Regions from separate parts of the Homo sapiens genome. Here regions 2, 3, 4, 5, 6 and 7 are each reported to be linked to region 1. The links are microRNA targets in miRTarBase. Many come from high-throughput screens and were not tested one by one. Region 1 holds a microRNA gene; each other region holds the end of a gene's coding sequence. Distances are from middle to middle.
Evidence for each region. Region 1 holds the annotated microRNA hsa-miR-4725-3p (UGGGGAAGGCGUCAGUGUCGGG, at 2,163-2,184, shown strand). A microRNA usually pairs through its seed, bases 2 to 8, with sites in the 3' UTR of a target mRNA and lowers its output. Matches are read on the target gene's strand: a 7mer-m8 pairs with bases 2 to 8, a 7mer-A1 pairs with bases 2 to 7 and ends in A, and an 8mer does both.

Region 1 (4,377 bases):
CATTCAGTCCTCCAGACAACCCCTGAAATAGGTAGTAACCCCAGACTCACACAGGAACAGACAAAAGCACTCGGGGTTAAGTTGCTGGCCCGAGGCTAGTGAGTGGTGAGCTAGGTCTTGCCTGCTTATTGCACGGCACCACGTGGGGTAAGGTGTGCCAGGCAGCGGGAGCAGCTCAGCACAGTGATGCAGGTGTGCTGTTCAGTGGTTCAGATGATGCAGAACCTAGTGTGGGGGGACTGCTTCAGTTCTGCTTTGTTGGTGGAGAATATGTCTGTGATCTTGGTTAGGACAGAAAGCTCCGGGTGGATGACAGGTGCCAGAATGTCAGTTTGAGAGGGCTGAGGCTGGAGCTGGCAATCGGGATAGCAGGCACACTTCCTCACAGTCTGAACTGGAAGGAGCGTGGAGTGTTGGGGAGAAGATGCAGTGTCAGTGCCCAGGGTGCAGCGAGGCACGGGCTGGCACCCTGACCCAGCCCCCTTCCCAGAGGGGAAGAATTCGCTATGGCCCAGCCCCTGCCCTTGGGGTCTGAGGGGATCCACTTTTGTTAGGAGCCTGCTACACACTTTGCTTTCTTTCGATCCTTACATTGCCCTTCCAGGTGGGCTTATTATTCCTATTACAGATAAGAGAGCTGAGGCTGGGAAGCCGAGTAATTTACACAGGGTCAGGTCATACAGCAAGTTAGCAGGTAGTGGTGCCAGCAGCTGGCTGTCTTTTGTGGGGATGTGTTTTCACCACAGCGGTGGCAACCTGTGTCCTGACAGGCCAGGTTCCTGCATGGACAGTGGGGCCCCCAAAGAGCAGGTGCAGTGCCAGGCTGGACAGATTCCAGCTGTGCCGGGGCCTTGGGCAAAGTGGCCTGGCCTCAGGAGACACGTTTCCTGTTGCTGGGTGACATTCCACAGGTGGGAGGCACATGCAGGACCTCATTCCCTAGGGGCCTTCCTGGTCTGGGCCCTGATGCCCTGACGCTGGGGTTGACCCTCTACTGCCCTGGAGGCTCACCTGGGCCTCGGGACAGAAGGGATTGTCCCATTAAGGAGAATCCTCTACGAGTCTCTGATTCTGGAAGCTCTTGTTTTTTATCCTCCCATACAAAAAACAAATTGGCCACCAGTCTCTTCCCTTCTTTTTGGCCACTGTCTCACCATCTCCTTCACCCAACCTTGGTTTCTTTCAGCCTGTGCTTCCCAGCAGAGCCTGTGGGCTTGTTGATTTGAACCCAGAAACCACCTAGGACATTCCAGAGGTCTTCACACTTGTCTTTGTTGCCCATTGTAGGCCGTTTTCATAGAAGGGTATTGGGAGGACCTGCCTTCCCACTCAGGCCAATGTGAAGCTGTTGCTCTTTTGCTAAGGGCAGGGTGGGATATGGCCGAGAATTGGTGGGCGGGCCTGAGATCCATTCAGCAGCACCCCAGGGCGTGCTGTTTCTCACAGGTTGCAGCCTCTTCCAGCCCCTTTGCTTTCTGTGACAGAGCTGAAAGTCTCATTTCCTCTTTGGCTTTCCCTTTGAAATGGGAGAGAGGGTGGTGGGAGCTTAGCTCCTTCCAGGCCCATTTTACAGGCAGAGTAACCAAGGCCGCGACTGCTGGAGAGAAGCGGAACCGGAGTTCCCGTGCCCATTCCTGTTGGAATCTCCTGTCTGTGTGCCGTTCTTTAAGATGGGCTGGAGAGAGTCGGGGCAGCTCTTCTCCCGGGTTTTCAGGCCTGGGTTGCTCTTCTGGGCACTTCCTGGTGTTTTCTTCTCTTTGCCTGAATCAGGCCTGGCCTCAGGCCTGGTTACAAGAAGGTTGGAGGCTGGCTGTCTTGTGTTCATGTGTCACGCCAGGCCTGAGACCATCATTGTCTCTCTGAGATGGTCCACGCCCCTCCTGTGAACACAGGGGCTACAGACTATAGTATAGTTCTTGCCACGTTCCCGAGTTTTGGGGGCTGCTCTCCACATTGGGATTCCACCAGGATGCTGGTCTGCAGTTTCCTGCAGGCAGAAGGCGCTGGGTTCTGAGTTGGCTTTAGGTGGAACCCAGGTCATTCCTGGGTATGCCTTGGGAGGGCGGCGAGGCTGGCCGCAGCTGGGCCCGGCATCGGAGAAAATTGTGTCTCTCTGGAGACCCTGCAGCCTTCCCACCCACCAGGGAGCTTTCCATGGGCTGTGGGGAAGGCGTCAGTGTCGGGTGAGGGAACACCAGCTTCACCTCGGCTCATCTGGGCGTGGCAGACGACTGCTTCCTCACCTGGAGAGTGTTCAAGGACAGCAAGAAAAATGAGGGACTTTCAGGGGCAGCTGTGTTTTCTGACTCAGTCATAATGCCCCTAAAAATCCTTATTGTTCTTGCAGTGTGCATCGGGCAGCGGCCAGCAACCTGCCTCTCACCCACCTGGCCCTTCTGGGAGGACCGGGACTTCCTGGGGTCAGATTGGAATGTACGTCCAAAATAAGAGTGAATGGGGATTTGCTGATTATTAAAACAATTTTGTTTGCGTGCATTTTTAGCATCTTCTCTTCTGGTGGAGGATTGGAGTGGCTGAGGGTCGGGAGGGCTGGACATCAAGATATTCCTGTGCAGGTTGGAGCCCAGGAGGGTGCAGGAACTCCCTGGTTTGTGTGCAGTGAAGGCCTGGAAGAGCCTAGCTGCACGTGCAGTGCCCAAGGAAGGTCATCTTCCGGGTCAGTGATGTTAGAGGCAACAGAGTTGGGCTGGACAAGATGCCCCCCAACCTTTCCTGAGAAGTTGAGGCAGGAGTAGAGGAGGCATCTATCTGCGCAGGAACTTGCATTGTATTTTAAAATAGAAGGCAGCCTGGCCAACATGGCAGAACCCCATCTCTGCTAAAAATACAAAAGTTAGCCGGGTGTGGTGGTGTGTGCCTGTAGTCCCAGCTACTCGGGAGGCTGAGGCATGAGAATTGCTTGAGCCCAGGAGTTGCAGGTTGCAGTGAGCCAAGATTGCACCACTGCACTCCAGCCTGGGCAACACAGTGAGACCTTGTCTCAAAAAATAAATAAAATAAAATAGAAGGAGCCTCAGAATCCACTGTCTGTCTGAGACCCAGTGAACTAGCCATTTTGAAAATAGAACAGTGAATTGAGGGTCTTTCCCCCTCTACTGTGACCCTGGAGCTTGCTTTTCCTTGACTGAAAGTCCTCCATCCTTATTTCACTTCATGGATCTCCTCCATTCTCAGCAGGTCTCCCTACCCCTGCCCTATCCAGCCCCACCCTGCAGATACAGTCATGCACTGCCTAACGATGTTTTGGTCAACGAGGGACCGCATGTAGGACAGTGGTCTCATAAGATTATAACACTGTTTTTACTGTGCCTTTTCTGGTTAGGTACACAAACGCTTGCCATTGTGTTCTAATTGTCTACAGCATTCAGGATAGGAACGTGCTGTACAGATGTGTAGCCTAGGAGCAATGGGCTCCCCCACCTAGCCTAGGTGTGCAGCAGGCTATTCACCATCTAGGTTTATGTAAGCACACTCTGTGAGGTTGGCACAATAACAAAATCACCTAACAATGCCTTTCTCAGGATGGATCCCCGTTGTTAAGTGACACATGACTCTATTTTGACCAGCCAAGGCTTTTGGAGGTCCTGGGGGATTGTCGAGAAGCAGAAATACCTTTTTTTAAATTATTATTATTATTTTTATTTGTTTTGAGATGGAGTCTTGCACTGTCGTCTGGGCTGGAGTGCAGTGGCGCGATCTCAGCTCACTGCAACCTCCACATCCCAGGTCAAACGATTCTCCTGCCTCAACCTCCCAAGTAGCTGGGATTACAGGCGTCTGCCACTATGCCCAGCTAATTTTTTGTATTTTTAGTAGAGACGGGGTTTCACTGTGTTGGCCAGGCTGGTCTCGAACACCTGACCTCATGATCCACCTGCCTCGGCCTCCCAAAGTGCTGGGATTACAGGCATGAGCCACTGCGCTCGGCTGAATCCGATTTTTCTGAGACCTATTTTTTTATTTTTTATTTTTTTGAGACACAGTCTCACTCTGTTACCCAGCCTGGAGTGCAGTAGCTTCATCACAGCTCACTATAGCCTTGACCTCCAGGACTCAAGGGATCCTCCCACCTCAGCCTCCCAAGTAGCTGGGATTTACAGGCACCCACCACCATGCCCGGCTAATTTTTGTATTTTCAGTAGAGATGAGGTTTCACCATGTTGGCCAGGCTGGGTCTCAAACTCCTGACCTCAGGTGATCCACCTGCCTCGGCCTCCCAAAGTGCTGGATTACAGGCATGAGCCACTGCGCCTGGCCAGAAATACTTTGTTAAATCAATTTGTGATATGCCTGCCTTCCCCAACAATGCCAGTCCACCAAACCCGAAGCAACAGAATCCTGCTCTCCAGGGGAGAC
Region 2 (4,377 bases), 22 Mb from region 1:
CTGCTGCTGGGCAACGCGGAGGACTCTCCGGACCAGAGCGGCATCGTGGCCGATAAAAGCAGCCTGGTGATCCAGTGGCGGGACACGTGGGCGCGGCGGCTGCGCAAGTTCCAGCAGCGTGAGAAGAAGGGCAAGTGCAAGAAGGCCTAGCGCCGAGGCAGCGGGCGGGCGGGCGGGCGGGCGCCAGGGCGGGGCCGAGCGAGAGCGGGCGCCTTGGCCCGGCCGCCGCGGACTTGGCCCGCGAGGGCTTTCCCAGGTGGGGGGAGGGAGGGGGCGGGGCCGCACGGCGCGGGGGGCGGGACCCTCGGCGGCCCCTCCCCCTACCCCCACCCTGCGCGCTCTGGGCGGGAGCCGCGTGCACGCGGGGCGGGGTGCGCCGCCGGCCGGGCCCTGGAGAAATGACGAGACGTAGCTACCTCACGGGGCTCCTTCCAGAGCAGAGACGCGCTTCCCTGGGCCTGGGCGCGGCCGCCGTGGAGGGGCTGGGGGCAGCCTGCCCTGGGGCCCGGGGGCGGGCGCAGAATCGCACAACTGGGGCCCCAGGCGCGGGGCGTGGATGGCGCGGAGACGTGGACGGGAGGAGAACTGTGAATTCTCAAGCCCGTAGTGTGGGCGGGGCGCGGAGCACCCACCAAACCACCACCCGACACGCAGCCGACGGGATCCCCCCCTTTCTCCCCGGCCCCTTCTAGCAGTTCCCCGCGGGCCACCTGGCTGTCACAGCCTGGACTCCTCCATCTGAAGGGGCCTGGCAGCATTTGGGGAGTGGACAGCTCCTGTCCAGCCAGCATGCCCCAGGCGGCCTCTGTCTCCACTGCTACCTGCTGAGTGGGTCCTACTGGGTGGGGGCTTGGGGTCGGTGAGTGGTTCACCTGTGGAGAGAGGAGAGGAAGCCCCTGCTGCTGCCTGTCTCTGCCCCTGCCCCTGCCCCTGCCCAGCGTGGGGCTGGCCCATCCGGAAGGCAGTGGGCCCAGGGACACCCCTGAGAAGCCCAAGCCGGGTGGTCACCGCCTCATGCTGGAGCTGCCTGTTGGAGGAGGCATCGCAAACGCAAAACCTCCCAGAGAGTTTCCTTTTGGAAACTTGGAACCAGCCCTTTTTATGACGTTTTCCAGGGGGAGGGGGAGGGGCACTGGCTGGGTTTACGGCAGTGACACTATTTATGTAAATGACATCAGCTCCCGCAAGGCCCCTCAGCAATGTCAACAGCTGGAAAGGGCCTGAACGGGCTTGGAGTCTGCAGGCTGCGAAGGCACTTGGGCCTGGCTTGGGGCCGGGGGCTTGTTTGAGCTGGGATGGGGTTTGCTGGCTCAGTGAAGTACCAGAGTGCCTGAGCCATGGGTGGGCAGGGGCACAGGAATGACCAGGTTCCTGGGGGCCAAGGAGGCCATGCTGGCTTCTCCAAGGGAAGGCACAGAGGCTGCCGGCCTGCCCCCTACAGCTGTCTTGGGTCTGGCCTGGGCCACACCTTGACCGTGCCTTTCCAGACGGTCTTTGTGGAGTCTGCCCGTGCCCTCCACTGTGCCCCAGCCCTCCTTCCAAAATCTCCTAGAGACACGGTCCTCAAGCAGGCAGCCCCTTTTGTTCTGACCTCCTCACACAGGGTCCATTCCTGTGCCCTGGGGCCTCCTGGCTCCCTGCCTTCCTGGGCTCTCTGCACTGCCCGGGCCTCTGGCCCACATCCTCACACCCGGCGCACTGAATTAAGAGGCCTGGCTCCCCTCACAGTCAGGAAATTGGTTTCACTTTCCCGGCCAGAGTTTGGCTGCTCAAAAGGGTCATACCAAGTATGAAGCTCGGCCCCCGGTGGTCTGGCTTCCCTCCGCCTTCCCCACATTTACCCGCATCACGGCTGCCATTTATTGAGCACCTGCTGTGTGCCAGGCACTTTACCCACATGCTCCCAGTGTGTACTCATGACAACCCTGTGGGACAGGGACTCATTATCACCAGCAAGGAGACTGGAGTACACGTGCCCAAGGTCATGCTGCAAATTGGTGGCAGGACTGGGGCTCAAACTCCAGAGCCCGACTTTCTGACCAGGGGCCACGCTGGCCCTCACTGCACTCCAGCTCTGCAGCCTACCCGCCCAATCCCTGTGCAGGCTGGGAGGGTGCTCTTGGGGGAGTGGCCACCGAGCCCCTGGCCCTGGTTACTGCCTCTTGAGGACACTGGCATCTGGGCTGGAGAACAGGAGCCCGGGGTGGGGTAGGGCATGGGGACAATCACATCTTCAGAGGAGGCAGCAAAGTGGTGCGGGATGCAGGGACGGACTTGCCAGATGGCAGCTCCAGGTTCCAGGAAGGCAGGCCTTGGATGCTCCGAAGAGGTGGTAGAAAGGTGTTTTTAGAAAGGTGTTTTGGCTGCCTCAGGGTGGTTGGAGAGACTCCAGGAGAGACTGGCAGAGGTGCCTCAGGGGCAGGGAGCAGACAGACCTGCCCTGGGAAGGGGCATTTGGCTTCCCTGAATCCAGCCCAAGGCTAGAAGACAGGGCCCCTCTCCAAGCTGTCAGCGCCCCTCGGATGCCCAGTGTGGTGTGCTGGGCGCCATCAGCATCACAAGGCACTACGCTGCTGGGGCGGTTGTCCTATTTCTGTCTATGCCAGTGTGGTTTCTTCACCCTGCCCAGAAGGGCTGTGGCAGCCCCACGATATCCCACCCTGGGTCTGGGTCTCACGGGTGTCCTGTGAGGGGCTTGCATTTGTGGTGGTCTCTGAGGCCACCTCAGCAACGGAGCTGGCGACACGCCAAGCAACAAGGCATCTTGCGGAAAATTCAGCCAGTGTCCTGCCCCTCCCTTCGGCTCAGCACCCCGCAGGGCACAGGCTGTCCGCCCGGTGGTCTGGCCCTTGGGGAATGCGTCAGGGTGACCAGATCCACCATGCTAGCAGCCAGGTCACTGTTGGGATTGCACGGTCGTCACGAGCTGCCTTTCCTATCCACACACCCAGCCAGGACCCAGCCCACCACTCCCGACTGCAGCCCCGGCCTCTGCGGTGAGCACCATCCTTGGGAAAGCACCCCTCCTCCACTCCGGTGCCCCACTCCAAGGAGCAGAGGGAAATGGGAATTGAGGTGTCCCGGTTTGTACAGTTAGGAAGGGATGTAAAACGGAACTAGATTTTGATTTTGAAGAGTGTATTAACCAGAATTGTGCTATGTAGGTGTTTGTTTGAAGAAAAACATACCAGATTAGTCTTTGTTTTTGAAACAGCTTCCCCAGTTGTCCTTTTTCTTACCAGCTGGGTGGTCTGGTGCCCCTGACAGCTGAGTGCCTGCTTTACGGACACGCAGTAATGCCGAAGATTTGCGGGGGAGGACATAGGGCTGTCCCCGGGATTCACCTGCTGGCTGTGGTCTCTGCCCACTGCTTCTGTCCTTGGAAAGCAGGGCAGGAGGCAGCATCCCCAGGGGCCTCTATGTGGGAGGGAGGGACACCTGGGGTCACAACCCAGGGAGGGAGGGTCACAGCCCAGGGAGGCTGGGAGCTGCTCCAAGGCCCTGGAACTCTGCCTCAGTCGCGGCATGCTGGAGAGGGGTACGGACTTACTTTCTTGGAGTTGTCCCAGGTTGGAATGAGACTGAACTCAAGAAGAGACCCTAAGGGACTGGGGAATGGTTCCTGCCTTCAGGAAAGTGAAAGACGCTTAGGCTGTCAACACTTAAAGGAAGTCCCCTTGAAGCCCAGAGTGGACAGACTAGACCCATTGATGGGGCCACTGGCCATGGTCCGTGGACAAGACATTCCTGTGGGCCATGGCACACCGGGGGGGATCAAAATGTGTACTTGTGGGGTCTCGCCCCTTGCCAAAAGCCAAACCAGTCCCACTCCTGTCATTGGACGTTTCTTCCCATTCCCTCCTCCCAAATGCACTTCCCCTCCTCCCTCTGCCCCCTCCTGTGTTTTGGATTTCTGTTCACTCAGAATTGTAAATGTTTAGTTGTGACCATGACGTATTGTTTGGGTCAATGTCCCTTTCCAATGCATACTAATATATTATGGTTATTATATATGAATATATTTAATGACATGGAAAAAGTTGTGGATTTTCTTTCTTTCCTTTTTTTTGGGGGGGGGTGGGGGGTTGGTTAGAGTTGTAATGGACCCAGATGGAACTTGTAATGTGGGCCCCACATGATAGAACTAAATTCAGATATCATTAAATAAACTCTTGTACACTATGCCGTCTCGCAGTCTTGATTGGTGGCCTGGGCTGTGGGAGGTGGGCGTGTGGGGAGGCAGGGGAAGGATGGAGTTTTCGGGGAGTTTGAGGAATATGGCTTCAGGCCGAAGAACTCCCCTGCAAGTCAGAGCCTGGGTTTTACCCAGAGCCTCAGAGACAGAGCCCTAACTAACTCCCCCGAGAAGGCAGGAGA
Region 3 (4,377 bases), not on the chromosome of region 1:
TGTAATCCCAGCACTTTGGGAGGCTGAGGTGAAGGATCACTTAAGCTCAGGAATTTGAGACCAGCCTGGACAACATGGTGAAACCCCATCTCTAGTAAAAATACAAAAATTAGCCAGACGTGGTGGTGGGTGCCTGTAATTCCAGATACTTGGGAGGCTGAGGCAGGAGAATCACTTGAACCCCGGAGGCAGAGGTTGCAGTGAGCCGAGATTGTGCCACTGCACTCCAGCCTGGGTAACAGAGCAAGACTCCGTCCAGAAAGAAAAGAAAGAAAAAGAAAGAAGGAAGGAAGGAAGGAAGAGGGGAAGGGAGGGGAGGCTGGAGGGAGGGAGGGAAAGAAAAGAAAGAAAAAGAAAGAAAGAAAGAAAGAAAGAAAGAAAGAAAGAAAGAAAGAAAGAAAGAAAGAAAGAAAGAAGGAAGGAAAGAAAGAAAAGAAAGAGAAAGGAAGGAAGGAAGGAGGAAAGAAAGAAAGAAAGAGAAGAAAGAAGAAAGAAAGGAAAGAAGGAAAGAAAGGAAAGAGAAAGAAAGAAAGAAAGAAAAAGGAAGGAAGGAAAAGAAAGGAAGGAAGGGAGGGAGGGAGGGAAGAAAGGAAGGAAAGAAGGGGAGAGAAAGAGAGAAAGAATGAAAGAGAAGAAAGAGAAAGAAAAAGAAAGAAAGAAGAGAAAGGGAAGAAAGGGAAGAAAGGGAAGGAAGGGAAGGAAGGACAGAAGAAAGGAAGGAAGGAAAAGACAAGACTCCAGCCTCGGTGACAGAGCGAGACTCCATCAAAAAAAAGAAAGAAAGAAAAGGAAAGAAAACGGTGGGGTAGGAAAACAGGCGTCAGTCTCAGCCTAGGGAGATGGAGCTTCTGCAAAGGGCAAAGGGGGCCTCTTCCTTCAGAGCTTGGGGTATAAATGCAGCTCCTGGGAGGCAAGACACAGATGCAGTGCCCAAGACCCAGGGGGAGTGGCTGGTGGCCTCCCCTCCCCCCGATTCAATCCTGGGAAAAGTCAGTGTCTGCATGCACAGCCTAACCAAAAGCATCCTGTCTCCCTTTCAGGTTTGGGAAGCAATTGAATTTCCAGGAAATATCCATCCATGAATTATGCCAGCAAGAATGAAGCACAGATGAAGGCAGCGCCCCTCACTTGCTCTGGCTTCAGAAGTGAACTATGGGCTGCTGGGAGCAACTAGTGACTTTGATTCCCATGGAGGGGACTGTGTTTCTTTAAGGATGCTGACCTGGAGGCCACCGAGAGGCTGGGGCTGGGGCTGACCACAACATCCTTCCTGTGGTTGCTGGAGCTGCTGGCAGGGCCAGGCAAGGCCAGAGTGCTAGGGGCAGGGTGAAGGCTTCAGCTCACTGTTGTAGTGACGTTTTGTGTAGATCTTTATAAGCTTTTGAGAATGTGAAATAGCACCATCAAAATATAATGTCAGAGGATGCTCACACCAGTGGAATGTGGGGGGAATATTTTTATTTTTAACGATTTGCCAGCTCTCTCCCTTGGCCCGTGCTCTGGTTTGGAAGCCCAGAAATGGCCATGACAGGTCCAGGCAGGATGTCCCAGCCACAGGCAAGGCAGTGGAATGCAGGGCATCCTGAAGGCCAATCCTGATCTCCCAGACCACATCTTTCACCATCAGCCTCTTGGCCAGGATGACCTGGAGGCAGTGCCTGAACAGCTGTGTCTCCAGGGAGCCATCTGCCCTGCAGGGTCTAAGGACATCATAGCACCCAGAGAACAGTGGGCAGCTCCCAGGGGCTCTGCTGAGAGCTTGAGAGAGGGCAGTGTGGGTACCTTGGGCCTCACAACCTTCACCCAGCCACTTGGGAGGATTTGGGCTGACACTCCCCACTTCCACAGGGAAAAACATAGCTGCCTGGGGGTCTTGTCTCCATGGGCCCTCTCCATGACAGATCCAAGGGAAGGTGGGCAGCCCTCAAGGAGGTTCTTGAAGAACTGCCCCCTGGGCCAGGGGGTTCCAACCCAGCTGCAGCCAGGGAGGGGCAGCGGAGGGTGAGCAGGAGTGGCACCTGGAAATGAAGCTAACTGGATAAAAGTGCTGGTCCACTGCTCCTGGTGTCTCTGTCCTATAAATACAGGACCTGATGACCCTGGAGGGGAGCAGAGTGGTAATATAGTATAATTGGCTTGATTTTCTTTTTCGTTTTTTAGGACTGGGTAACAGGATCATGCAGGAGAAGATTAAACCATTACATTTCTAAGCTAGGCAGGCCCATCGAGCTCCTCTAATCCACACCCCTATTTTATATAATTAGAAGGCCAGAGTGAAGGGGAGATTCAGCTTGCTGTTCTATGCCACTGACAAATGTCCCCTCTTCAGGGGGCTTCCCCTGACCACTCCATCTCGAGTCACCCCCTAGTTATCCCCTATCCCATTACCATTTTTTCTGCATCACTATCTGACATGTTATCCTTCCGAACTTGCCTATTTTTGAAATACCTGCAACCCCCCATAATACTAAGAGCTCCAATGCAACAGGGACCTGTTTGTCTTGCTCATTGCTGTGTCCCAAGCACAGAGTCGCTGTTCAGTAAACGGTCCTTCAGTTCATGAGTAGACGAGCCAGAACCCAGATGTGTTTCTCAGGCTGGTGTCACTCTGACTTCCCCCAGGCTCTGACTGAATCCCATCGGGACAGGGGCCAGCATCTCTGGTCCACTCCTGGCCCTCACAGTTCAATGGAACATAGTAAGCCCTCTGTAAAGTCTGTAGAACCAGAGGAAGACCAAATTCTGATTCTAGAAGCCTCCCCAAGAGTCCATGGAACACACATGTAACTGCACACACACACACACATACACACACACACTCTCAAGAGCCCTGAAGATGGCATGGCATTTGCCCCAGTCCCCTATGTAGCAGCAGCAGTATTCTTGGCATGCCTTAGTGCCCTCAGCCCTCTAGAGCTGGGTAGAGTCTACTAACTTTTATTTTCTTTTATTTTTACTTTCTTTTATTTATTTTTTGAGATGGGGGGGGTCTCTGTCAGCCAGGCTGGGGTGCAGTGGTGCGACCATACCTCACTAGTCAGCCTCCAACTCCTGGGCTCAAGCCATACTCAGCCTCCAACTCCTGGGCTCAAGCGATCCTCTCACCTCAGCCTCCAAAGTAGCTGGAACTACAGGCATGCACCACCACACCTAGCTCGTTTTAAATTTTTTGTAGAGACAGGGTCTCACTGTGTGGCTCAGGATGGTCTCAAATTCCTGGCCTTAAGCGATGCTCCCGCCTTGGCCTCCCAAAGTGCTGGGATTGCAGGCATGAGCCACATACCCTGCCAGAGTCTTTCAACATTAGATCTCCCACTGAGACATCATCTCCTGGATCCAAAGGCCTTACTGACAGAGATGTGTGGCATGGCCCCATGCGGGGTGTGAACCAGCCTCCTGGGGCAATCACTAAGACAGGAAAGGAAATGAAGACAGAAAAACACACAACATGGGATCTGGGGCCACTGGTGTCCAGAGCATATGCAAAGTGTGTGCAGCAACTGGCCAAGGGGCCTTTTGCTCCGAACATCCCCTAATGGAAGCCCAGCCTTTGATATGGACACATGCTTGACAGCAGTGCACCTTCCCAGAGTTCACTGGCCTCTGCAAATGGGAGAAATTGATGCAATGTTTTGAAAAGACTTTCCAGCAATCCACCTGGGATCAGTGGAGCCACGGATGACAAGAAGTATCTGAGTTCACTCTAGGCCAAAATGTGGGATTTTCAAAAACATTTTCTGGAAAGCAGCCTAGCCAGTGACTCCAGCCCAGTCCCTGCTAGAATTCAACTGGCTCTACCAATCCCTTGACAAGAAGTAGGGTGGACGGAGGTTGGAGGAGGGAAGTTAAAATGTAGCTTGCCCAGATCTTGCTAAAAAGGAGTTTTAGAAAGCAGATAGAGAAATTGTGGTATACTGAATACATCATTTTAATTCTTCACCACCAGTATAGAATTACACATCCAAAGCTTTGTCATGGCCCACTTTGACTAATGTGGTGTTGGCAAACCTGATCCAGGCAGAGGCTTGAATTGTGCTCTCATGGTTGAGCTTGCCTCTTGCTCCAGTGATCTCTCTTGGGATGAACATGCCATGGGTAGCTGCTGCCCCTTCAGCCTGGAACATCCAGAGAGCAGACCTGAGCCCAGTCTACAGCCTGGAGCAGAGCCTCCCAGGCAAGCCCAGCCCAGATCAGCTGAACTATGGCTCACCCAAAGACCTATTGGCATGAGAATATATGCTGCTTGTCATAAACCACTGAGGTTTAGAGTGGTTTGTTATATAGCATTAATTGTAGCAATAGCAGACTGGCACAGAAATTGGAACCCAGAGACAGTATATGACTGGATCTAGGATTTCTCAGTGCAGAGTTCATTGT
Region 4 (4,377 bases), not on the chromosome of region 1:
AGGCCGCGTAGACCTCTCCTGAGTGGGGAGGCCGCGTAGACCTCTCCTGAGTGGGGAGGCCGTGTAGACCTCTCCTGAGTGAGGGAGGCCGCGTAGATCTCTCCTGAGTGAGGAGGCCGTGTAGATCTCTCCTGAGTGAGGGAGGCCGTGTGGACCTCTCCTGGGGTAAGGAAGGCCGCGTGGACCTCTCCTGGGGTAAGGAAGGCCGCGTGGACCTCTCCTGAGTGAGGGAGGCCGCGTGGACCTCTCCTGAGTGAGGGAGGCCGCGTGGACCTCTCCTGAGTGAGGGAGGCCGCGTGGACCTCTCCTGAGTGAGGGAGGCCGCGTGGACCTCTCCTGAGTGGGGAGGCCGCGTGGACCTCTCCTGAGTGAGGGAAGCCGTGTGGACCTCTCCTGGGGTAAGGAAGGCCGTGTAGACCTCTCCTGAGTGAGGGAGGCTGCGTAGATCTCTCCTGAGTGGGGAGGCGGTGTGGACCTCTCCTGGGGTAAGGAAGGCCGTGTAGACCTCTCCTGAGTGAGGGAGGCCGTGTAGACCTCTCCTGGGGTGAGGAGACCATGTAGATTGCTCCTGAGTGGGGAGGCTGCATAGACCTCTCCTGGGTGGAGGCCCAGCTCTTCTCGGAAACCTGGTACAGAGTGAGGGGCTGGATGCAGCTGAGAAAATGCAGTGTCGGTCACACCTGGATCAGGGAGGGGGACCTGGGGGCTGCCTGCTCTCCTGTGTGGAGGGTGGGAGGGCCTGGCATTGGGTTGGGGTGGGGAGAGGGCTGGAGACCGCGACACACGCCCCTGGGGAGGTGCCCCCACCGCCAGGCCTCCTGCCCAGCACGCTCCGGGCCCTGCGCCCTGCCCTGCACTCACACCTTCTCTCCCGCTCCCCGCAGGCCACGGACTCTGACTACGAGGACGCGCTGCCCAAGCACTCCTTCGTGAACCACTACATGAGCGACCCCACCTACTACAACTCATGGAAGCGCAGGGCCCAGGGCCGCGCACCTGCGCCGCACAGGTACGAGGCGGTGGCGGGCTCCGAGGCGGGCGCGCAGCTGCACCCGGTCATCACCACGCAGAGCGCGGGCGGCGTCTACACCCCCGCTGGCCCCGGCGCGCGAACTCCGCTCACCGGCTTCTCCTCCTTCGTGTGAGCAAAGCGCCGCGCCTCCCTCAGGGCGGAACGGAGGCAACTTTCCGGAGTCTATTTTTGTTAAGACAATCAACTCCAATAACTGAGCTGAAGTTTTTGTTTAAAAAGAAAAAAATCTGATAAGTGATGATTTTACCTACTTGTGGACACTAGATTTCAATTAGGAAGGTTTTTTTAAACGGCTTTTTGTAACTTCGCTGCAGGAAGCAGGTTTGTTTCTTTTTCTTTTCTTTTTAAGAGAAGGTGTATTTCACTGGTGCAATGGCTTGGCACCTCCGGGGCCTGGGAGGACCTCAGACCTCCCCAGCCCTGGGTTTCTCCGTCTTCAAGACCAACTAGGAAGGGTCAAGCGGGGAGAGGGAGTGGAGGGTCAGGTGAGATCTCAGAGCTGCCCCGGCCGGCCCCCGTCTCTTTCTACCTCCTCTTCCAGAGAACCAGCGGCTCACACCCTTCTCAACGCAGGACATCCTCGGCGGCTCCTGGGGTTTGAAGAGCAAACGTTTTTCCCTGGGCTCAGTGCGTTTTGTCCCAACTTCATCTGTTTCTGAAATGTTCTCACTTGGCAGTGTCTAGTCAAGGAGTCGGCTTTCAGGTTCCTGACGGCCAGGCAGGGATGCTAAGGTGTGGCTCAGCCGTCACTGTCTGTGTCACTGCAGTGGTGCGGTCCTCAGGCTTTTCTGCCTGTCTTTCCCCCTTCCTTCTCACCTGACAGCGAGGGAGAGGGAAGCCTCTTAGGGCTGGAAGCCACCACGCTGGCCCTCTCCTTCCCCGAACACAGCACACGGTCAACTCCGCGGGACACGAGGACACGGGACGGCGTCTCCAGAATTGCTTGTTACGTAGGAAGCGTGCATTGTTAACCAGAGTATTTTTAAAATCTTTTTATCTTTTTTTAAACTATGTCACATGAAATGAATGCGTCTTTGCTGTCTCCAGGTGCCTTTTTATTAATTGTTCAGCTTTGTACATGGGAAAGATGAAAAGCAACAGTGTCTGCAAATAAAGCAAAACAGCTCTGAGAACACACGCTCCCGACTCGCCTCGTGCACACCAGGCCGTCCCCTCCCTCTGTCCTGGCTTCTGCTGGCTGCTCGCAGCAGCCACCGCTTCTCCACCACTGGCGCTGCTGCTGCCCCCTCTCCCAGTCCGAGGCCAGCTTTTAGCCTTAACAGGTTTTTTGGAAATGTTTCTTTTTTTTATTTAAAATTGTCATTGTTTGGTTTAAATTTTTCAGCTAGATGAAAAGAGTATGAACTACTTTGGAAAACTTAACAGCTCAGAGATGGCCATGCCTCCAGCCCCTCACGTCATCTTTGCAACAGACGACTGGGCTGCCATGGTCCACCCCTCAGCCCGGGTCCCGGGTCTGGATGGAACGGGAGCACTGCTGGTGCCCACTGGCGTGTGTGCCCCGGGTCCCTGTAAGTGCCCCCTCACCAGCAGCAGCGTGACACACACAAGACTCAAGACCACCCTGTCAGTGCCCCCCAGTGCACGGCAAACGGGCAGGTGCCGTTCCCCCAGTGACCTGAGGGTAGGGGACAACTGAGCAGTATCTGACCAGTGCCACCCAGGAGCCAGTCTCCTGGCCACATGCAGAAAGTGTGGCCCCTGCTTACCTAGATGTTTTGTGCACCTCCATGGGCAGAGGGTGTGGATATTGCCTGGATTCTGTGCTGTCAGCGTTGCTGAGTATGGCCCCAGGAGACCAAGGAGAGTTTTGTATAGGCTGGAAAACCCCTTTTCAGTCTTTCCAAAATTAGAGGGTATGGCAAGTTTCCTTTTTTCTCTCCTCCCTTCCTTCCCCTCCTTCCTTTCCTTTACCCCTCCTTTCCTTCCTTCCTCCCTTCCTCTCTTCTTTCCTCCCTCCCTCCCTCCTTCCCTCCCTTCCTTCCTCTCTTTCCTCCTTCCTTCCCTCCCTTCTTTCCCTCCCTCCCTTCCTCTCTCCCCTATTCCTTCTTCCTTTTCTCCTCCTTTTTCTGAGTGGAGGGGGAAATATTCTAAACCAAAAATCCTAGATGCTCTGCCCAAAGCCACTTCTGCATGAGAATCGCAACCCACAGTTCCCCGGATGAGACTCACCACAGTGGACAGTGCCACCTCCTTCCCCTCGGCCCCGGAGAGGGCGAAGTGGGCGGGAAGCCAGGATGTGAGCACTGGAATTTCTTGGAAGAGAAGCGATAAATGGAGACCATGGCCAGCGCTGCTTTCTGTGCACTCTGATGACTGCTCTCTGCAGCCATGAGGATGTGGCTTTACATGCCAGGGAGAGTGTTGAGACGTCTTAGGTTGAGGATGAGCAGATTCGAGATATGTTTGTTGCTCTCGGGTTTTCGATACAACATCATGACACTTCTGTTTCAAGCTCATGTTTTCCGTCTCCCCTCCACTCTTAGTAAACCTTGATCTGTACGGAGCGGCCTGTCCGAGGCTACGCCGGCCTCCTGGCTGCTGCTGGACTGTGCTTAGGACAGCGCCCATGCCTCGGAGGGACTCTGTCCCATGAGAACCACCTGTGCAAAGGAACAGAGCTGGATGTTTCCAGGTAGATTTTGGCCTCCCAGAGCAATGCGGCATTTGAGAAGCAACAGTTCCTAACTCCTTATCTTCAGGGAAGGAAAAGAAAATCACAGCCTAGGAAGATGGAGGTTGGATTTTAATCTCGGTTTTAAAAAGAGGACAAACAAAATGTCTCTAAGCCAGGCTAGATGGAATGTGCTCCCGCTCTCTCCTGCCGTGCTGAAAGTCATGCCTTGCGGATGCCTCATGACAGCAGTGGCTGAGTCTCCCCACCCACCCCCAACGTGGCTCATTTCAGATTGCTTCGGCCCCACCCTGCAAGGATGTGGTCACGGAGTGGCCAGGAGGCTCCGTCTGAGCCACAGGGATGGGTGTGCAGAGCTCCCTCCTCCTGGGGTGCCAGGGCAGAGATTCCAGGCAGGTGAGCCCAGAGAGAGCTGCCAGGCCACACCCCCTCGGCCTCCTGCACGGCCACCTTCTGGGTGAATCGGTCCAGCCCAAGCCCCTCTCCCCAGCCTCGCCTTCAGCCTCTCTCCCAGCCTGCTTTTATAAGGCGCACTTCACTCAATGCTGTAGCCAAAAAACGAGGGGCCCCAGGGAGAGGGGACCCAGATGGCCACACACGGAACGCGCCTCCACAGCCCCGGGAGGTGGCTCACTCTGTACAGGTCTTCGGAGGCCGTGTTTGTATCTAACTGTGACTGGGCTGAAGC
Region 5 (3,000 bases), not on the chromosome of region 1:
GGAGAAGCTGTGGGACCCCTTCAGCCTGGAGGAGGGGCCGGCTGAGGAGCCCCCCAGCAAGGGAGCGGTGAAGGAGGAGAAGGGCGGTGGTGGTGCGGAGGAGGAAGAGGAGGAGCTGTGGTCGGACAGTGAACACAACTTCCTGGACGAGAACATCGGCGGCGTGGCCGTGGCCCCAGCCCACGGCTCCATCCTCATCGAGTGTGCCCGGCGGGAGCTGCACGCCACCACGCCGCTTAAGAAGCCCAACCGCTGCCACCCCACCCGCATCTCGCTGGTCTTCTACCAGCACAAGAACCTCAACCAGCCCAACCACGGGCTGGCCCTCTGGGAAGCCAAGATGAAGCAGCTGGCGGAGAGGGCACGGGCACGGCAGGAGGAGGCTGCCCGGCTGGGCCTGGGCCAGCAGGAGGCCAAGCTCTACGGGAAGAAGCGCAAGTGGGGGGGCACTGTGGTTGCTGAGCCCCAGCAGAAAGAGAAGAAGGGGGTCGTCCCCACCCGGCAGGCACTGGCTGTGCCCACAGACTCGGCGGTCACCGTGTCCTCCTATGCCTACACGAAGGTCACTGGCCCCTACAGCCGCTGGATCTAGGTGCCAGGGAGCCAGCGTACCTCAGCGTCGGGCCTGGCCCGAGCTGTCTCTGTGGTGCTTTTGCCCTCATACCTGGGGGCGGGTTGGGGGTGCAGAAGTCTTTTTATCTCTATATACATATATAGATGCGCATATCATATATATGTATTTATGGTCCAAACCTCAGAACTGACCCGCCCCTCCCTTACCCCCACTTCCCCAGCACTTTGAAGAAGAAACTACGGCTGTCGGGTGATTTTTCCGTGATCTTAATATTTATATCTCCAAGTTGTCCCCCCCCCTTGTCTGGGGGGTTTTTATTTTTATTTTCTCTTTGTTTTTAAAACTCTATCCTTGTATATCACAATAATGGAAAGAAAGTTTATAGTATCCTTTCACAAAGGAGTAGTTTTAAATTCCATTTAAAATGTGTATTTATTGGATTTTTTAAAAGCGACAATAGTAATGGTAAAGGATGGGCAGGAAAGGCCAGTAGTGCTCCCCCGCCCAGTCTCGCTGGGTCTGGCGAGCCAAGCCCCTCGGGCGCTGGCGAGGTCCTCAGCCATCTGCCCCTCGAGAGCCAAGCGCGGACGGTAGCCACCCAGTTCATCCCTCCCGACATACACCCCTTCCCTTTGGGGAAGGGAGCCTCAGGACAGCTTCTGTCCTCTCTGATAGGATGGGAGAGTCTGCAGAAAACCATCTGGGGTCCCTTTTCCAGTCCCCGGCTTGGAGTCGAAGGGCAGATGCACCCCAGGCCAGCCCCACGAGATGCTGGCATAGCTTTCCCCAGAAACCAGGTTGGAAGTAGATGGCTTCAAGCTTGCTAGTCTCCACACTGAATCCTCTGTCCGTTATTTATGGAGTCACACGATGTCATGGTTCACTAGGCAGCACCTCACGCTGGAGCTGGAGTGCGAGGTTCTTAGGGGCCGTGCCCACCATGTTGCCAAGCCAATGCATGCTGAGCTGAAGGAATTTGTCTTAGTGGCAGTTTTTTAAAAAATGCCCCCAAAGTCTATGCTGATACTGAAAAAGGGCTACTGTATCTTTAAAAACAGGAAGTTGAACCCAAGCTGTGAAAAGCCAGTGGTGCTCTGTGCATGGTGCTGTGCGGAGCCTGGTGCTGTAGTGTTGTGCTGGGACTTTCTTGACTCTTGGGCAGGTCACATCCTACAGGAGCTCAGCAGACCAGTGTAACAACAGTTAATGCATCTATCCTGATCCCTGAATTTCCACATTGGACAATGGTGCATGCCTCACACCTGAGCCTGCTTCCTCCATGCTGTCATTGGGTTCGGGGGCCTACACTTAACAATTTTAAAGTGCAAGAGTCAAACATTTTCAACAGGTTGCTATAATTTTCCTCCCTAATTGGTGCCATTTCTCCATTTGATCATTTTCTTTTTTTCCTTTCTCCCCTCTTCATCCACTTTAATATAGCTGTTCTGAAATTCTGGTGCATTCATTCGGTTCTTTGAAATGAGAATGTGGTGCTTAATTTTTGTGACGTTGTCGAGAGAGGTTGGGCCTGATGGGAGCAACACTCATCATCACCAAGTCAAACTTTGTTGGAGTGTTGGTTTTTCTTGTGATATTAGCAGAAATGATCTCATGCTAGCCATGTGGATGTGTGTGTGGTGAATGGGGGGCTTCATCAGGACACACAGAGGGGAATGTGGCCACACGGTGGATGACCACCAAGCCCTGAGATGAACAGGTATTTACTGAGCAGTTGTATTCAGATATGGGTCTTCATGAATCATGTTTAACAATCAGATGACCGCTATAGGCAAGTTCCTGAGCTTCCGGGTGCCTTGAGTAAGAGCTGAGAACCGGCCTGCTGGGTGTTTACTGTATCTGTTTGGAAGCACTGGCGGAGGGTCGTTGTAAGATGTCCTGAGCATTTATGTGGTCTGGTTTTAACTGTAAATAGTGAAAGATTTTTTTAAGCACTTTTGCCTAGATTTAAACAGCAACTTGAAAAAAAAAGTATGTTTTAACATGTAATTGTGGGAGAAATTGTAAATAGTAGCCGAATATTTAATGTGCTTTGTCTATCCTCCACTTTTACCATATTCTGTAAAGTTGCATTTATTTTACAGGACAAAAAAATGAAATATTATTGCTTTTGAAATAAATACCCAAGAGCTTATCAGGACTTAGAATTATTCAGAACTCAGATTTATAGGAAAACCTCTGACCTTCAGTTTGACAAGCTAAAGGAAGCAGAGTCTTTAATGAGCATGCTAATTTTCTAGTTTTGAGGAAAAATTGGGTCCTTTAAATGCTATTTTGCTTATCGCATCAGTACTTTTATGCAGGTCTCATTTGACTCCGTGCTTAGGTAGATGCGGGGGTGCCTTGAAAACTTCATTTTAAATGATCTTAAGCAAGAAATACAATATTTTACGAAACATTTGGAGAAT
Region 6 (4,377 bases), 50 Mb from region 1:
GGGGAAAGGGAGACTCTTTCCCGGTCCGCTAAGTAGCGGGTGTTTTTCCTTGACACTAACGCTACCGCTAGACCACGGTCCGCTTGTCAACAGGCGTCTTCCCAGATGCTGGCGTTACCGCTAGACCAAGGAGCCCTCTGGTGGCCCTGTCTGGGCATAACAGAAGGCTCGCACTCTTGTCTTCTGGTCACACCTCACTCACTATGTCCCCTCAGCTCCTATCTCTGTATGGCCTAGCTTTTCCTAGGTTATGATTATAGAGCGAGGATTATTATAATATTGGAATAAAGAGTAATTGCTATAAACTAATGATTCATGATTCATATATAATCATATCTAAGATCTATGTCTGGTATAACTATTCTTATATTTTATTATACTGGAACAGCTCGTGTCCTCAGTCTCTTGCCTTGGCACCCGGGTGGCTTGCCGCCCACATGGGGCCAGGCATGCTGGACCCCCCTCAGTGCACATGCCAGAGCCCAATTCTCTCCTGAGTCTGGGGAAATTGATGCTGCTGAGGACACCACTGTTCTCAGAGTCGTCTCTGCTCGTGGACTCTTCTCAGCGCAGATGTAGCACCTGGATAGGAATTTTTTTTCTTTTCTGTTTTAGAGATGGGGGTCTTGCTCTGTTACAGCCCAGGCTGGAGTGCAGAGGCACAATCACAGCTCACAGGCCCAGACGGTGCAGCGGCCAGGCAGAGGTACTCCTCACTTCCCAGACGGTGGGGCGGCCTTGACCTCTCAGGTTTGAGTGAACCTCCCATTTCAGCGTCCCGAGTAGCTGGGACCACAGGCATGGTGCCACCACAGCTGGCCTGAATTTTCTTTAACAGTTTGGAGTTCCCATCAAACTAAACGCTAATCAAAGGATAGCATTATACGGTATGTGAAATTATAACATTAATTTTTTTCTTCAAAAAAAATCACATCAATAAATGTGTGATAGGTTGGCTGGGAGAAAATCTGGCTAGTCTGGGAAAATTCTTTGTAGGAAAGTTGACAACTAGGGTGCTGCGAGACCTGTGTGTACAAGTAGGTGACCCATCTGGGATCACTGGTTTTGTCAGCACCCCGATTTTGTGCAAATTCAGTTTTCCCTTTATATGGAGAGAACAGCACTGCCCCATGGAGAGCGGAAGGCCCAGGGAGGTCCATCCATGGCCTTCGCCTCTTAAACATTGACCCTGACATGCCCACATCACCTCCTCCTGAAGATTCCAGAAGTAAAGGATAAGTAAGAAAAGCAGGACGGCACTTTGGGAGGCAGAGGCGGGCGGCTCACCTGAGGTCAAGAGTTTGAGACCAGCCTGACCAACATGGAGAAACCCCGTGTCTACTAAAAAATACCAAATTAGCCAGGCATGGTAGTGCATGCCTGTAATCCCAGCTACTTGGGAGGCTGAGACAGGAGAATCGCTTGAACCTGGGAGGCAGAGGTTGTGGTGAGCCAAGATTGTGCCATTGCACTCCAGCCTGGGCAACGAAAGCAAAACTCCATCTCAAAAAAAAAAAAAGTAGGAGGGGTGAGCTGGTCTCTCCTGGAACCCCAGCACTGAGGGAAGCCAAGGCAGGCTAATCTTGAGCCCAAGACTTGGAGACCAGCGTGCCACTGCACTCCTGCCAAGGTGACAGCAAGACCCTGCCTCAGAAAAAAAAAAAAAATGCCAAGTACAGTGGCTCACGCCTGTAACCCCAGCACTTTGGGAGGCCAAAGCAGGCGGATCCCTTGAGTCCATAAGTTCGACACCAGCCTGCGCAACGTGGCGAAACCCCATCTATACAAAAAGCACAAAAAATTATTTGGGTGTGTTGGTGAGCACCTGTTGTCCCAAGTACTTGGGAGGCTGAGGTGGGAGGATTGCCTGAGCCCAACAACTTGCTGCAGTGTGCTTATGCCACTGCACCCCAGCCTGGGCAACAAAGAGGCCCTAAAAACCACCAGGGGTTTCCCTTCCAGCAGCTAAAACCTGAGAATCATGGATGCAGTGGAGAGCATGAGCGCTTTCCCAGCCCTGTGGGATCCCTTTGCTTAGCCATACACGGGCCGATCTGACACCCAAAACCAAAGGCATTGAGCGAGTGGGAGTGCCACCCGCTGCCGTCCCAGCCCTTTCCCAGGGAAAGGCCACCCCCTTCCAGCTGCTGCTTGTGATCTGGGGCTGAGTTCTGGCTGCTGCAAAAACAACATCCCAACGCGAGGGCTGGGGCCGCCAGGTCCATCACAAGGTGGGAAACATGCCCATAAGAGGAAAACAGCCCTGACTTTAAATATATATTCTCCAATTTAAAACTTTTAACTAAAAAGTAAACTTTAATGTCGAAAGTGCAAACTTGGGGAAGGCAGAAAACATCACACACAAGGCTGTCACTTCACACTTGGAAGGTTGCACAGCGGCCGGGCAGAGGCGCTCCTCACTTGCCAGACGGGGTGGCGGCCAGGCAGAGGTGCTCCTCACTTTCCACACGGTGTGGGGGCCGGGCAGAGGTGCTTCTCAGTTCCCAGATGGTGCTGGGCTGTCGGACTCCATTGCTGGATGTGTGACTTGGGTTTAAGCTTCTCCCTTCTGCTCTCATCTGGAAATGCTGACAGCCTGGGCATTTCCTCCTTTGGCACTGGAGACTGAAGCCTGGCAAGGCCCTGCCCTCAGCAGGAACTCCCCCTGGGCCCCACTCTGTGACCTTGAGCCCAAGACAGGATTTTTCCTTTACCTTCTTCCAGCCACTTTGGGCCTCCCGGCTCTCTCAGAGCCCTGTTAGGTAGGTGACAACTCTGTTCCCACTGTTTTTTTTTTCTTCGTGTATTTTTAGTAGAGATGCAGTTTCACCATGTTGGCCAGGCTGGTTCGAACTCCTGACCTCAGGTGATCCACTCGCCTCAGCTGCCCAAAGTGCTGGCATTACAGGTGTGAGCCACCGCGCCCGGCCCCCGGTTCCCACCTTCTTAAGTGTATGTGTTGTCATCATGTTTCACCCCAACCAAACCTTGGGTGGGCAGCCTCTGTAGGGGACCACTCACAGCTGGCCTGTAGTCACGGTCCCCTGCAGAGCCCTGTCCCGATGCGTCGTCCCTGCCCGTGGCCTGCTCTGCCTGATGTGCACTGTACGCTCGGCTCTGCTGACTCCCGGGGGCCTCCGTCACACACTGAGCCAGCCTCATCAGCTGTCTCGGTATTTGGTGTTCAGGGACAGGGATCCAGCCCTTCCTAAGGTCCACCTGGGCTGAGACTCAGAATGGACGTTCAAAACAAAGAGATGGAGCTGTGAGTGACACCGGGCCCCACGGGCCGTCTGTCAACCAGGCCTTGGCCCTAGTCCATCGGGCACTCACCCCCTGCAAGATGTGGACCCACTAGTGCCCAACGTGTGAACAAGTAGCTGGAGGCCTCACCCCACACTGCTGGCATGGCCTGCCTCTCTCCTACCCAGGTGTAGCAGCTCCTGGTGCCAGTTGCCCCAGAGCGTGGCCAGGCCCCGGGTGTCTCTCCATCACAGCTGCGGCTCTGGCTTCTTCCGGGAAGTGAGGTGGGGTCGCTCCCCGTGCAGCTGCTGCTGCCGCTGCTTCAACGCTCTGTAGGCCTGCACGGCCCGCTCTCTCTCCTCCTCCACAATCCGCTGGCGGGCCAGGGAGGCGGTCAGAGGCTGGGACACACCACCGGGGCTCAGAAGCATCCGCAGCATCTGCGATCTCCTGCCAGGCTGAGGGAGAGAGGGGAGGGTGAGGCACAGGCTGGGAAAGGAGGGGATGCAACAGAAAGCCTCACAGCTTCAACAGCTCTCCCGCCAGCGAGAACACTGCACTCTCAGGCCACACACCAGACAGCGCACACGTTGGCTGAGGGTTTTTTTTTTTCTTGACACAGGATCTCGCTATGTTGTCCAGGCTGGTATCAACTCCTGGGCTCAAGCAATCCGCCTGCCTTGGCCTCCCAATGTGCTGGGATTACAGGTGTGACCCACCGTGTCCAGCCTGTCCAAGGCTTCTGTTCCCTGGCAGCACTGGGGGACAAACTCAAGTTGTCCCCGTGCCCCACTTACCTGGTCCTTGCTTACGCTCCTCTGGGGCCTGGCAGTCAGCTCTGGGGGCTGCAGGACAACCTCACCAAACTTCACCGTGTCTGGAGGAGCAGAATACAACTGAGGACTGCTGCCCACAGCCACTGCACCCCTGACACCCAGAGCCACCACCCGCCCACCTCCCTCCCATAGGGCTGGGACAGAACACCAACTCATCCAGTGGTCTAATGGCTGTGGACCCCAGGGGAAACCACAGGTGCCCAGTGCAGCCAGGGCTGGTGGGGAACAGAAGGCCTGCGCCCAGGCCCCACCCGGACCACTGCTGACACCATCGCTTTGGGAAGAGCTACCTCGGAGC
Region 7 (4,377 bases), not on the chromosome of region 1:
TGCTGAATAGAGGTTTCCTCCCTTCTCCCTGGCAGTGCTGACAGCCTGAGACAGGATGGGGACCAGGACCCGCTCCCCAGCATCTCCAGCTGGGACATCTGCACCAGTTCAAGGGCCTCAACAGGACCCTGAGATTGTCATTCCCATGTCTCAGTTTTTGGGAAAGATGTTCTTTTCAAGGAGAACTGCTGGGCTTCTGGGTCAAGGGACAGCTTCACTTTTTTCAGCTGTGGAATGGCTTGATGGCTGAGTCAGCCTTGGGAGCCCTGGGTAAGAGTTCGAGCTCAGGAGGAAGCCTTAGTCTCCCTAGCCTTCTTGTGAGCACAGATGGGGAATAGATGCAGAAAGTAGGGGCTTTCCCTGGGGTGCTGGCCCACTACCTGCCTCTTTCTCGGAGAACTGTATATGTCTTTGGAAGGAGACTCATGCCTTCACTTCTCCTCTGTTAATACCAACTTTTAGAAACAGGTTTGTGGTTAATTCAGACTAAAGTGTCAATGACTAATAGGCAGCAACTTTTTGCCCTCTTACTCCACAACAAAAGCTAAAATAAAGTGAGTGAGTATCAAACGGTGTAATTTGAGGCAGCAGCAAATGTGTAGGATGAGAGGGTGATGATTTCAGGCATCCAAAATCAGACCACTGAAGCCAGGTAACTTAGAAGCTTCAGACACAAAAATGGAAGGGAATTGGGCCAGGCACAGTAGCTCACACCTGTAATCCCAGCACTTTGGGAGGCCAAGATGGGAGGATCGCTTGAGCCCAGGAGTTTGAGACCAGCCTGGGTAACATAGCAAAACCCCAGCTCCGTAAAAAATAAATTAGCAATTAGCTGGGCATGGTGGCCTGTGCCTGTATTCCTAGCTACTCAGGAGGCTGAGGTGGGAGGATCGCTTGAGCACAAGAATTCAAGGCTATAATGAGCTGTGATAGCACCACTGCACTCCAGCTTGGGTGACAGAGCAAGACTCGGTCTCAAACAAAAGAAAAGAAAACAAAACAAAACGAAAACCAGAAAGGGAACTGTAGTGGCCTGTGGCCCTGGGAACCAGCCCTGCTGGGGAACTCTCACCTCTGTTAATAGGGCCCGGGCTGCCTCCCCGACCTGTTGTCCCTGAGAGATGGAGGGGATGCTGAAGGAAGAGAGAAGAGATGAAGAGGCAGGACCCATCCCTCCCCTGATCTGATCTCCATCTTAGCAGGGCCATCAGCCCCAGAGCAAGAGGCAATGTGCCAGCCATCCTGCTGAATCAGCCTGCCTGGCACTGGCCGTGGCACTGGCCGTGGCACTGTGAGGCTCTCCTAGCTGAGCAGGGGCCGCCTGTGGCAGCAGAAATTGAGCCAAGCAGCTTCATAGTGGATGGAACTGGAAGCAGTCTTCTCCGCTTTCCTCCCCTCCTCCCCAACCCAACAAACAGGCTGGGTAGACAGCCCTGTAAGAAATGCATGTCGACATTTTTATTGATCAGAAAGTAGGTGACTGGTCACCCAGAACATTCTCAGAGCCAACACCAGGGCCCCTCGATGGCCCAGCAGCAACTCCAGAGCTTCCCACACTCAGTGTGGCCCCGACCCCCAGCCCTATCTCTGCAATGCTCACTCCCTTCCTACCCACAGCTCTTTCTCAGGGGAGTCCCAACCCCAGCTCACACCCCCGGCCCCTTCAGAGCCTCCTTCTCCTTCTTGACTCAGTGCAGGCTGGGGTATGATCCTGAGCAGAGGACGCTCAGGTTAAAGCAGGAGCTTGCAAATAGAGTTCTGTAGAACCTTCCAGAAGGGGATTTTCAGGTTCCCGCTCACCCACTTTAACCATAGCAGTTCCAGGCTAGCTTTTGTTGGTTAAAACAGTGACAGTAGTTGGCTCAGTGTGAGGTCTCAGCAGGGGCCACTGAAAACCTAGATGGACCGAAGCCCTAGGGCCAACTGCCCTACAATGGCCTCACTGGCAGTGGGGGAAGAGGGTAGGCTGGCTTCCTCCTGCCCGTGCCCTGCAGCCCAGCTGAACCAGCCTGCCTGTGCATGTCTCAGTGACCTCACTCCGGGCTATTAACCTCCCGTGGCAGCTGTCTTCCCTACTGTGGGAGGGGACATGGGCCTGCACAGCGGTTTATTCAGGGATGAAACCTAAGCTATGTGCAGGGTCCCTGGGTTGCTGAGAGAGACCGGGCAAGCCTTCCCCTCCCACTGCCTGCAGAATGAAGGGGAATAATTAAAGACTATTAAAGGAAATTAAACTCCACCTTCAGAGATAACCTAATTTCCTCCCAACACACACACCCTCTTCTAACATCTGGCCCCCTACCCCTGCTACATCTGGAAGCTCCAGCTCCCTTCAAATCCAGAGTCCAAAATCCCAGCCCAGGAACCACGGACACCTCTAGGCCCCCAAATCCGTCGTCACACACTCTGCTACCCTGACCTCATCCCCTCCTGCCCCGTCATCCTTTGTGTGTCCTCAGGCCTCACGTTGGCTTCTCAGCATTTCTGAGCTGGGAGAAGCCAGCTCTGGTAATTAAAGTCTTTCCAGAAAGGTAGCAATCACTCTTCTGAGGTCGGAGTCAGCTATTAAAATTTTGTTGTCTTTTTTTCTATTTAAATTGGCCCTTGGACACTGGGTTTTTCTGTCCTTGTTTGTCCACACACAGCTGAAGGGTGCTGGATGGGGGTGGAGGTAAGTGTCACAGCCTTGGGTCCCCTTTGGGAGAAGAAACCTAGAGCGGGGAGAGGATGTTTCTGATCCCCTTTCCTAGTTTTCCAAGAGCAGAGGCAGCCTGGTGCCTGGCACACCAGACCCCAGGTCCCCCAGGCCCCGTTCCAGGTGCAGATGCAAAGTCATTATCCTTGTTCCCCAGGGAGGCATCAGAATGAAGGGGGAGCAATTCTAAGTGGGGCCCATCTCCCTAGGCCTCCCACAGCCATTCTGGAACATGCTAACATTGTTGATCTAGAGCCTCTGGGGGCTGTGGGTGGGAAAGAGGCCAGGGAAGAATGAGGTGCATTCTTCTCGGGTTGGGTAGGCCATTCCAGAGGCGAGGGTAGGTGGTATCCATCCCTGTGTCCTGGTGCCCATGGTGGCCAGGATGTTTGCAAAGTGCCAAGACTCCCCCAAGAGAATGGAGGCCAGGTGGTTGTTCCTTGCCTTCACCCTGGCAGGGTTCCCTAGCAAGAGGGCAGAGAGGATGGCGGGTGGGGGCAGGCTCAGGGCACCATGTTCCACCATTTGAAGGGAAAGGGCTTCCTGCGCACGTTGGTGCCACAGTGGATCTCCCCCTGCAGCTCGTGGTAGGACAAGTAGTCATCAATGAAGATGCAGTGCAGGCCCAGAGGCTCCAGCAGGGACTGCACCTTCTCCTCCAGGCAGCAGCGGCCATTGATGATGGGCCCGTAGGGCTTGGGGATGCCCAGGTACTTGCCTAAGACCACCATGTTAACCTGCAAAAGAGAAAAGGCAAGAGGGAGGCTGTCTGGCTATAAGTGCTGTGCTTCTGGCACCCCTTCCTTGCCAGAATGAGACAGGCCCTGGGGAATGGGTTGGCCATAGCCACAGCCTAGAAAGGGCTCTAGGACTGGAGTTTGCTCAAGAGTTAGGGCCTATGAAAGCAGAGGAGAAAAAGATTCAGGGTTGGAAATGAGGTTGAATAACAGCCAGGACTACCAGGAATTTTGTACATTAAAAAACAAAAACAAAAAACAAAAAAAAACTTCTCCCACTCTTTCTTTCATCTATGAGAAAATTGTCATATTATAGCAACTTTGTTAGAACAAGAGATTTTCGTGTCATCTGCCAGAAACTTGTACAACAAATATACACACCTACAAGGTCTGTGGTGTGGATGTCTTCCAAAGTGTGGTGTGCTTTTGCTGTGCACAGCTTGCTTAACTGTCTTTGGCAGCCCTGATCATTGTTAGCATTTATTGAGCATCTTTTATGTGCCAGATATATCATCACTAAATGCCACAGCCTCCCTCTGAAGCTGTGGCTCAGACAGGTTAAGTCACATAATCATACAGCCAGAGAATGATGAGACTGACATTTGGACTTGGATCTGGCTGGTGCCAAAATCCATGCTTTTTATCTGGCCACCTGTGGGACTGAGGAGTTGGGGGAAAGGGCTGAAAAAGCCTTTGGGGACACTTGAGTTTAACTCTGGGGGCACCTCTCCTTCCCTTGGTTGCGGACCTGGCTTGGGGCCCTAATCTGGGGATGGGAATTCTCCCCCATGCTGTGCTATGGGGGTTTCTTAGAGGAAATCTCAGCCCAGGTTGATGGCAAGAGGTCATAAGGGGTGACCCTTGGTGTTCAAAGGGGACTCCGGACCTTCTCTCTAGAGGGCGGCTCTGGGCTGTCTTGAGTTTGAGGTGAGCCTGTCCTGGACT

Region 2: the mRNA of NTN1 is a reported target of hsa-miR-4725-3p. Seed matches in the 3' UTR shown: 8mer at 1,827-1,834, 8mer at 3,215-3,222 and 7mer-m8 at 3,874-3,880.
Region 3: miRTarBase lists KIF6 as a target of hsa-miR-4725-3p. Seed matches in the 3' UTR shown: 7mer-m8 at 2,334-2,340 and 7mer-m8 at 2,613-2,619.
Region 4: miRTarBase lists SDK1 as a target of hsa-miR-4725-3p. Seed matches in the 3' UTR shown: 7mer-m8 at 1,908-1,914, 7mer-m8 at 2,945-2,951 and 7mer-m8 at 3,248-3,254.
Region 5: miRTarBase lists TET3 as a target of hsa-miR-4725-3p. Seed matches in the 3' UTR shown: 8mer at 786-793 and 7mer-A1 at 1,357-1,363.
Region 6: miRTarBase lists CCDC137 as a target of hsa-miR-4725-3p. Seed matches in the 3' UTR shown: 8mer at 2,338-2,345.
Region 7: the mRNA of PADI1 is a reported target of hsa-miR-4725-3p. Seed matches in the 3' UTR shown: 7mer-m8 at 1,952-1,958.

Annotation. Positions count from the first base shown.
Region 1 is chr17:31,573,164-31,577,540 of GRCh38, forward strand. It overlaps MIR4725 (microRNA 4725), which reads left to right and starts at 2,106; the gene lies at 2,106-2,195. MIR365BHG (MIR365B and MIR4725 host gene) reads left to right here. Exons shown (of 3, transcript NR_186556.1): 3 at 2,348-2,496. It overlaps MIR365B (microRNA 365b), which reads left to right and starts at 2,248; the gene lies at 2,248-2,358. RefSeq lists an enhancer at 203-822.
Region 2 is chr17:9,239,819-9,244,195 of GRCh38, forward strand. NTN1 (netrin 1) reads left to right here. Exons shown (of 7, transcript NM_004822.3): 7 at 1-4,182. The coding sequence ends at 150. Among named protein-coding and RNA genes, the nearest start is that of NTN1, 220 kb to the left of the region's middle. RefSeq lists a silencer at 165-614.
Region 3 is chr6:39,333,212-39,337,588 of GRCh38, reverse strand. KIF6 (kinesin family member 6) reads left to right here. Exons shown (of 23, transcript NM_145027.6): 23 at 1,041-4,377. The coding sequence ends at 1,057. The region is part of intron 1 of LOC105375047 (a long non-coding RNA gene); the gene reads right to left. Among named protein-coding and RNA genes, the nearest start is that of KCNK16, 13 kb to the right of the region's middle. RefSeq lists an enhancer at 1,347-1,426.
Region 4 is chr7:4,264,240-4,268,616 of GRCh38, forward strand. It overlaps SDK1 (sidekick cell adhesion molecule 1), which reads left to right. Exons shown (of 45, transcript NM_152744.4): 45 at 885-4,377. The coding sequence ends at 1,145. Among named protein-coding and RNA genes, the nearest start is that of FOXK1, 420 kb to the right of the region's middle. RefSeq lists an enhancer at 1-640.
Region 5 is chr2:74,101,585-74,104,584 of GRCh38, forward strand. TET3 (tet methylcytosine dioxygenase 3) reads left to right here. Exons shown (of 12, transcript NM_001287491.2): 12 at 1-3,000. The coding sequence ends at 592. Among named protein-coding and RNA genes, the nearest start is that of BOLA3, 45 kb to the right of the region's middle.
Region 6 is chr17:81,671,819-81,676,195 of GRCh38, reverse strand. CCDC137 (coiled-coil domain containing 137) reads right to left here. Exons shown (of 6, transcript NM_199287.3): 4 at 4,370-4,377; 5 at 4,041-4,120; 6 at 2,297-3,701. The coding sequence ends at 3,492. Among named protein-coding and RNA genes, the nearest start is that of CCDC137, 7.3 kb to the right of the region's middle.
Region 7 is chr1:17,243,065-17,247,441 of GRCh38, reverse strand. It overlaps PADI1 (peptidyl arginine deiminase 1), which reads right to left. Exons shown (of 16, transcript NM_013358.3): 16 at 1,435-3,432. The coding sequence ends at 3,199. Among named protein-coding and RNA genes, the nearest start is that of PADI3, 3.8 kb to the left of the region's middle.